Linked DNA regions of Homo sapiens. The protein of the gene in region 1 purifies or fractionates together with the protein of each later gene. This does not show direct contact. Each region holds a gene or a part of one and is shown in the gene's direction. Other genes may lie near its edges. The genes, in order: RAPGEF3 and NUP205.

Evidence for each region.
Region 2: the proteins of RAPGEF3 (region 1) and NUP205 purify together in Homo sapiens (affinity purification with mass spectrometry, with the first as the bait; one study listed by BioGRID). This does not show direct contact.

Annotation. Positions count from the first base shown.
Region 1 is NC_000012.12:47,752,094-47,755,915, reverse strand, and holds part of RAPGEF3 (rap guanine nucleotide exchange factor 3), read left to right. Parts: intron 1-3; coding exon of another isoform or gene 4-67; exon of another isoform or gene 68-214; intron 215-1,888; exon of another isoform or gene 1,889-1,982; intron 1,983-3,822. Other genes in the region: SLC48A1 (heme transporter HRG1), read right to left, coding at 4-67. UniProt on the Homo sapiens protein: Guanine nucleotide exchange factor (GEF) for RAP1A and RAP2A small GTPases that is activated by binding cAMP.
Region 2 is NC_000007.14:135,574,673-135,578,494, forward strand, and holds part of NUP205 (nuclear pore complex protein Nup205), read left to right. Parts: intron 1-1,597; coding exon 1,598-1,742; intron 1,743-2,296; coding exon 2,297-2,456; intron 2,457-3,123; coding exon 3,124-3,352; intron 3,353-3,822. UniProt on the Homo sapiens protein: Plays a role in the nuclear pore complex (NPC) assembly and/or maintenance. May anchor NUP62 and other nucleoporins, but not NUP153 and TPR, to the NPC.

The DNA of each region.
Region 1 (3,822 bases):
TACCTCTTGATGATGCCTTTAGCCCAGGGAAGGCTTCCGTGAGGGAATGAGTGCCAGCTGTGAGCATGCACGCCCATGGTGAAGGGGTGGAGCCCGAGTCCCAGGAAGACAGCACTGCCAGTTATTGAGGCCAGACCTCCCTCTTCGAAAGCCAAGGGGAAAACCCATCAACCTCCCAGAGAAGAAGTCTGAAGACAGCTCTTTCTGTTCCTACCTAGACCAGGACAAGAGAAAATGAAAGCGGGTTACAGTAGGAGGGCTTGCAGTTAGATACAGACTAAGATAAGACTTAACAGCTATTGCAAAAGTGACACTGGAATGGGATGGAAGAACATCTTTGGAAAATAAGAGGGGGAGGTGAGATCTTGTCTGATGTCCGGGGGCAGGGGCAAGATCAGAGTGACCTGTGGTGGGTTCTACTAGCTCAGGGAAGTCTGAGATGATTCTCTTTGTGTGACTGTTCTTGGGGAAGTGGCCCTGTTTTGTAACTCCGAGAACGCACTTTCATTCAACCTATCCAAATAATAGTAGTAGTTAATAGTTATACAGTACTTATGTGCCAGACATTATTGAAAGAGGTTTGCCTTTATCATATCAAATAATTCTCACAACAGCCCTGTGAGATAGGTACTAATGTCATCATCTCCATTTTATAGATGTGAAAACAAAGCCACAGAGAGGTTAAGTGACAGATTCAGAGTTACGCAGCTGCTAAGTGGCAAAGCTGGGCTTTGGTCCCAGGCAATCTGGCTGCAGAGTCCAAGCTCATAACCACATAACCACCATGCTGCACTTCTCTCTTGCTACGAACAGTAACACTGACACCTTAAGGCATCATCCCGGCCCCATGCACCCTTCCCCTGTCCCACCACAAGCAGCCCTAGCTTGACACCTTAGCTATGGCCCAAGGGAACTGGTCTGACAGGTCCCCAGGCTGTCTGGCTCTGTGCCTGTCTCTCCAGCCCAGCTCTGACATTCAGTGACAGGGAGTGAGGGTGGGGCAGGCCACAGTGCTGGTGCCAGGGGAGTTAGTGCCTCCTCTTCCGCCCTGAACCCTTTCTGTTCAGGAATGAGAGTGGGGAGTGGGTGAGGAGGACCTTCACCTTGACTCATATCAGCTGCTTCTTCCCAACTGAGAACCCTGAAACTGACATGACTAGCATTGTATTTTTTTGCACTGTGTCCTGGTAATAGGGCCCATCATGAAATAATAACATCTGATCAAGTCAACTAAACTTACTAAGTAGTTACTATGATCCAGGCACCATTCCAAGTACTTTATATTATTAACTTTTTGATCCTCATAACCCTTTGTGATAGGTACTATTCATATCATCAACCCCAGTTTACAGATGAGGAAACCGAAGCACTGCAAACTTCAGTAATCAGCACGAGCTCACACAACCAGATGGTAACGCAAAAGCTAGGATTTGAACCCAAGCATCTGGCTGCAGAGCCTACACACTTGACCACTGCCCTTGAATAGCAGCCCTCTCTCCGCCCCATCCTAGAAGGTTGGCAGGCACACAAACATCCTGGGGGCACAGAGAGGGTAGAATAACAAACCTGTCTATCTTTGTCTAACCCAGTGGTTTCCAAACTTACTTGCCCACAGAACTTGCCTGAAGGCAGAATACCTCTACTGTCTGTGCCTATAGCACAAAGCTGAGGAAACATGGGAATAGGCATAATGGAAGACGGTAGGGCATAATGCTAAGAGCATGGCCTTTGGAATCAGACATAGGTATGAATCCTGGTGCCCTTATTGACCAACAGTTAGGGCAGGTTATAGAACCTTGGAGCTTTCTTTTCTCTAGCTGTGAAATAGGAAACAAATACCTACCTCTGGGGTCAGCACCAGTAGCAGAGTTATTCAGTAGAATCTTACCTTTCTAAATAGTTGTGTGATCTCTCTGGGCTTTTGCTTTCCTTGTCAAAATGAGAGGGATTCCTTAAAGTCCCTTCCTCAGTGCTCATGGACTAGGGCCATTCTCTGACCTGCATCCTCATCCCCTGGGGGAGGACAGGAAATGACCAACCTGGCCACGTGACCCAGCACCACCCCTCCTAATGTGCCCTCTCCCAAGTCAGAATAATACCAGGAAGGGGGCTGGTGCTGGAGCCTGGGTTGTGGGCTCCAATGGGAGTTGGGGCAGGGACTGGGGCCACCTGGGCATTTTGATATGAACAACAAGTCATTAGCACTCAGGCACTGTTTGTTCCGACACAGGGGGCTGGCTGGGTAGCATTCCTGCCCTTCCTCCCTTCCCTGGCTCCTCCTCCTTCTCATTTCCTGTCGTTAAGTCTCCAGGGCTCTGTGTCTGGCACTGGGCTGGGCCCCATGACCCGGGCAGGGATACCCTTGGGACACCTAGTGACTTCCGCCCAGCCCTGGGCCAGGCGCCTGCACATGCCAGACCTCAGGCCTCTGCTTGGGCACGCAGTGCCAAGATGCCTGTGCCCAGGGCCCTGCCAGCACCAGGACTGGTTGTACTGCAACTCCCCAGCAGGTCCTTTTCAGGGACCTGAAGCCAGATGGGAAGCTAGGAGAGAGGTGGCTGGTGAGGGGAGAGGAAAGGGGCAGGTGGGGTGGGTGTAGGGAGACTGAGAATGGGAGCACTTCTGGGTGGGAACTTGAACTTCTCCACAGCTGTCTGGCTGTCCGAAGTATGCGCAACTGAGTTACACAAGGTACCTCACCTCCAGGCTTTTATTTCCTTGTAAGTGACAGAGGACAGACAATGCCTGCTCTGCCTATTTCACATCTGATCCTATTTTACATGAGATCCAATGAAATCAAGGGGGCGATTGTGCTTTGTAAACTGTAAAGTGCTTTGTAAACTGTAAAGTGAGCCCTTTGAGAGGGCTCGTAGATGGTAGAGCATCCTGTCCAGAGATGTCCACAAACCCCAGATTCTCAGGTGGTAGGAAGAGAAGGGTCGTGAGGGGCTTTCATGGCCATTATTCCAGGGCGTACAGGCCCGGGAGTTCCAAATGGCTTGTTACCAAGGGCAGGGAATCCTTACTAAGCAGTGTTTCCATGATAAAGTGCGTCTTCCTGAGCCAGTCCTGTGTGCCACCAAGGACTTATTCACTCTCGCAGGGCACAGGCTAGCAACATCTCAGAGAAGAAAGACGCTTTCCAGCAAGCAGCCCCACCCTAATGCCTCACAGATGAGTACTAGCTAACATGTGCATACAACTATATGCCAGGCAATGCTTTAAACATTCGATGTGTAGCAACTCATTTAATTCTCCCAAAACCTCATGAGTCGGTATTATTAGTGCTTTGTAGATTTTACAGTTCAGGAGACTCAGGTAGGGAGGGAGAGGTTAAATCATTTGTTTCAGGTCACATCTGCCATCAGTGGGGAAGCAGAGATTTTAATCCAGGAGCCTGGCTCCAGGGTTTGTGTTTTGACAACCAGGCTGATCCGAGGCCCAGAGATGGCAAGACACCTGCTCATGGGCCTGTGGAAGGACACAGAACCTGGCTGGGGATCAGGTCTGTGACCCCAGCCCAGGAGCGGATGTTCCCAGGCCTCCTGAGCTGCTCACATCCTGGCTCCCATCTCCCAGGTCTTCTTATCTCATGTCCTCATGCTCCTTCCAGCTCCCTCACTTCTTTCCCCCAACAGGGGCAGTTCACCTGGGGGCATGGGCACACCTGGGCCCTGAGTAAGCAGAATGGGTGTCTTAGGGCTCTCAACTGTAGGGAGGCAGTCCTTGAGTTGGGTTTGGTGATCAGGATGGCAGGGTGGGAAGAGGCGATGCCCGGGGCACAGGGTGCTGAGTGAATATTTGTTTATTTGCTGAAGGAGT
Region 2 (3,822 bases), on another chromosome or scaffold:
TTTGGATTTTATTCTAATTGCAATAGAAAGTTGTTGATGAGGGCTTTAAGCAGAGACATTACATAATTCATTCTAACTCTGAAATTATTTCTCTGGCTGCTGTGTAGAGAAAAGAGAGAAAAATTTCTATACTATAAGCAGTTTGTTTTAATTATAATGGAGGAGCCATTTGAAGAAAATATGGGCATGTTAGTTGAACAAAAGTTTAATATGTCTAAAGATAATATATGGCTACCAAAATCCTTTTTGACCTAAGCCTGCACTAAAAGAAGTATGATATTGAGAATGAGGGGGATGTTCACTAGACATGCTTGAGTTTTGAGTTTAACTCGGAACTTTCATTTAACAAACATTTCTTCTATACCTACCATGTGCCAGGCATGGTGTTAATTATATCACTCCAGTGATATAAAGATGAATAAAATCTCAACTAGTGTAAATACGCTCATATTCTAATAATTGAGAATGATGTGGAAACAAATATTTTGACACAATTAAGTACAATTAATGCAGTTTTGTGCAAGATTTAGAGATGGTCCAGAGATTTAGAGATGGTATTAGATGGACCTTGATTGTACAGAGAACTCTTAACAACATCATGAAGTTTAAGGTAGATGTTGCAAAATGAGTAAGCATACATCAGGTGGAATAGGTGGTTATTTGGGAGGATGAAGGGCATCCAGGCAGAAGAAATTGCCTGTGCAAGAGGGTGAAGCAAGGTGATGAATTTGGGGAACAGAAAGGAGTAGAGTGGAGGAGTAGTTGCAGTAAGGGGAAAAGAAAGCTTTAGGAAATGAAACTGAAACTATAGGCAAAGTACTCTTAAAAAAAAAGTGAAACTTAGCCAGGCGTGGTGGCTCACACCTGTAATCCCACCACTTTGGGAGGCCAAGGCAGGTGGATCACGAGGTCAGGAGTTCAAGACCAGCGTGGTCAACATGGTGAAATGCCATCGCTACTAAAAATACAAAAATTAGCTGGGTGCTATGGCAAGTGCCTGTAATCCTAACTACTCAGGAGGCTAAGGCAGGAGAATTGCTTGAACCTAGGCGGCAGAGGTTGCAGTGAGATCACGCCACTGCACTCCAGCCTAGGTGACAGAGTGAGACTCCATCTCAAAAAAAAAGGTAGAACTCATTCAAAGGAGAGTAGTTAAAAGGTGACTGAACTTGAATTATAAAAAGGTTGTTTATTCAGAGAAGATTCCGAGGGAAGAAACTTAGAAATATTTGAAAGATTCCATATGAGATAGTAAAATGGGCATTGAATAAAATTAAATTTAGTGGACAACAGTGAGACCAAAAGATTCTCACCCAGTATGTAGAAATCACAGGTAAGTGTGAGAGTTAGAAATTGAGAGTTTGGAAAATGGTGAATTCCATGTCCCTGCTGGTGTTTAGGGATAAGTTGGATGGCCCTCGAATATGTTGAGCAAGAAGTTAGACAGTGGATGGATGTTTGTAGTAGAGGACCCCAGGGCCCCTTAAGCCCTGAGCTACTGTGATTCTTTGAACTGAACATTGTTATATTGATTTTTGTCTCCTCCTAAACACATACGTGTTTATTAACAATATTATTTCTCAACTTCCTTTTTTAGGAGAGCATCAACAGCCACATTTTCCTGGCCTTACCAGAGGATTAGTAGCTGTTCTTCTGTACTGGGATGGAAAGCGATGCATTGCGAATTCCTTGAAAGCCTTGATACAGTCTAGACGGGGAAAGACATGGACCCTAGAACTCAGGTCTTTTTACTTCTTGGGATTTCAGGGGTTAATTTGAAATTACTTGAAGTATGACAATATTTCCCTTATTATATACAATCTGAGCAATATGTAACATAAGCTGAGTAATATACTCCCTTATTCTGCCAAGACAGATATAACAATTTAAACCTGTTTTATTGTGTTTATAAATAAAAAATAATTTGGACCGAGGTGCAGTGGCCCAAATTATTTTTGGATTACAAAGTGCTGGGATTACAGATTACAGTCTTGAGCTCAGGAGTTTTAGATCAGCCTGGGCAACATGATGAAATCCCATCTCTACAAAAAATAGAATAATTAACTGGGCATGATGGCATGCACCTGCAGTCCCAGCTACCTGGGAGGCTGAGGTGGGAGAAAGACCTGAGCCTGGGACGTCAAGGCTGCAGTGAGCCATGATCACGCCACTGCACTCCAGCCTGGGTGACAGAGCAAGGCCCTGTCTCAAAAAAAGAGCGTTTGCTATACCTATTATTATGAAGAAGCATAAACAATATTGTTTAACGTAGTTTATTGATTTCTTTTCATTACAGTCCAGAGCTGGCTTCCATGACAACACGCTTTACAGATGAGCTGATGGAGCAAGGATTGACTTATAAAGTTCTTACGCTGGTGTCACAGATTGATGTGAATAATGAGTTTGAGAAACTACAGCGAGAGAGAGGTTTGGGCAGTGAAAAACATCGCAAAGAGGCAAGGGTTCAATGAAATCAATTCATGAGTTGTCTGTCAAATCTCAGAGGCAGAAACATGACAATTAGAATGTTCATTTTTTCAAGATGAATTATGTAGCTGATACCATGCCTGATTGCCACTTTTCTTTTTTTTTGCTTTTATTATTTTTCATTGACACAAAACTGTACATATGTATAGGGTACAGTGTGGTATTTTGATACATATGTATGATATGTAATAAATCATAATTAGCATATCCATCACCTCAAACGTTTATTATTTCTTTGTGTTGGGAACATTCAAAATTCACTGTACTACTGTTTGACAGTACAGTATACAATAAATTGTTAATTGTAGTCAGCTCGTAATGTATATTAAAGTTTGTAGTCAGCTGTGTCCATAAAATTGACTTGCAGTTGTTTCAGCTTCGGTATAGTCATTTATGTGCCATTCTAGCTCTTTTTATGAAATGAACAAGAAATTGGTCATCCCAATTTCTTAAGGAACTTAAGGATAAGGAATAAACAATAGGGTTTGTTCAGAATTCCAGAGGTGACGTCTTAGGATCACTTGTGGATTTTGATAGGTTTTTTTATTAGCCTTTGTAAAAGGTAGTTTGTACTTTGGAATAAGACCAGGCTTCACTGTAATTTATTTATACTGATAGTCATGTTTTTATTTCTAGGTTTCTGATCTCATTAAGGAGTGCAGGCAGTCTCTTGCAGAAAGCCTTTTTGCCTGGGCTTGCCAGTCACCTTTAGGCAAAGAAGACACTCTCCTCCTCATTGGACATTTGGAAAGAGTGACAGTTGAGGCTAATGGCTCACTGGATGCAGTGAATCTGGCTCTTCTTATGGCGCTTCTATACTGTTTTGATATCAGTTTTATAGAGCAAAGCACAGAGGAACGAGATGGTATTGAGTTTTATACATTTTCCTACATTAAAAAAATCAGATTTAAAATTGTGGGGATAACATTTAAAAAGGGTGATATTTTAGCTACTAAAATAGTCTGCTCTGTTCCTGTGTTTGCAGTCCGTTCATATTTGAATATTTATATATAAGATCACATTTAAAAAACAGCTGCAGTCCTGTTAATTATTTCTGTTTTTTGGGGGGATTTGGAATGGAAAGTATTAAAGCATATATTATACATGTTCATGATTGCACATGCCTAATTTACTTAATTGCTTGTTTCTTTACCATTCATTTACATTTTCAAACTTTTTATTAAAACATTCTGAGACAGTGACTGTCATTTCAGTAATGTAATCTTTGATCTGTGTTTTCTGTGAAGTAAATAAAATTTTTGTGATCTTTAGATAGCATGATTTCTATTTTAGAATTTATGTGCAGAAAAAATGAGTGTCTAACTTTTTTCTTGT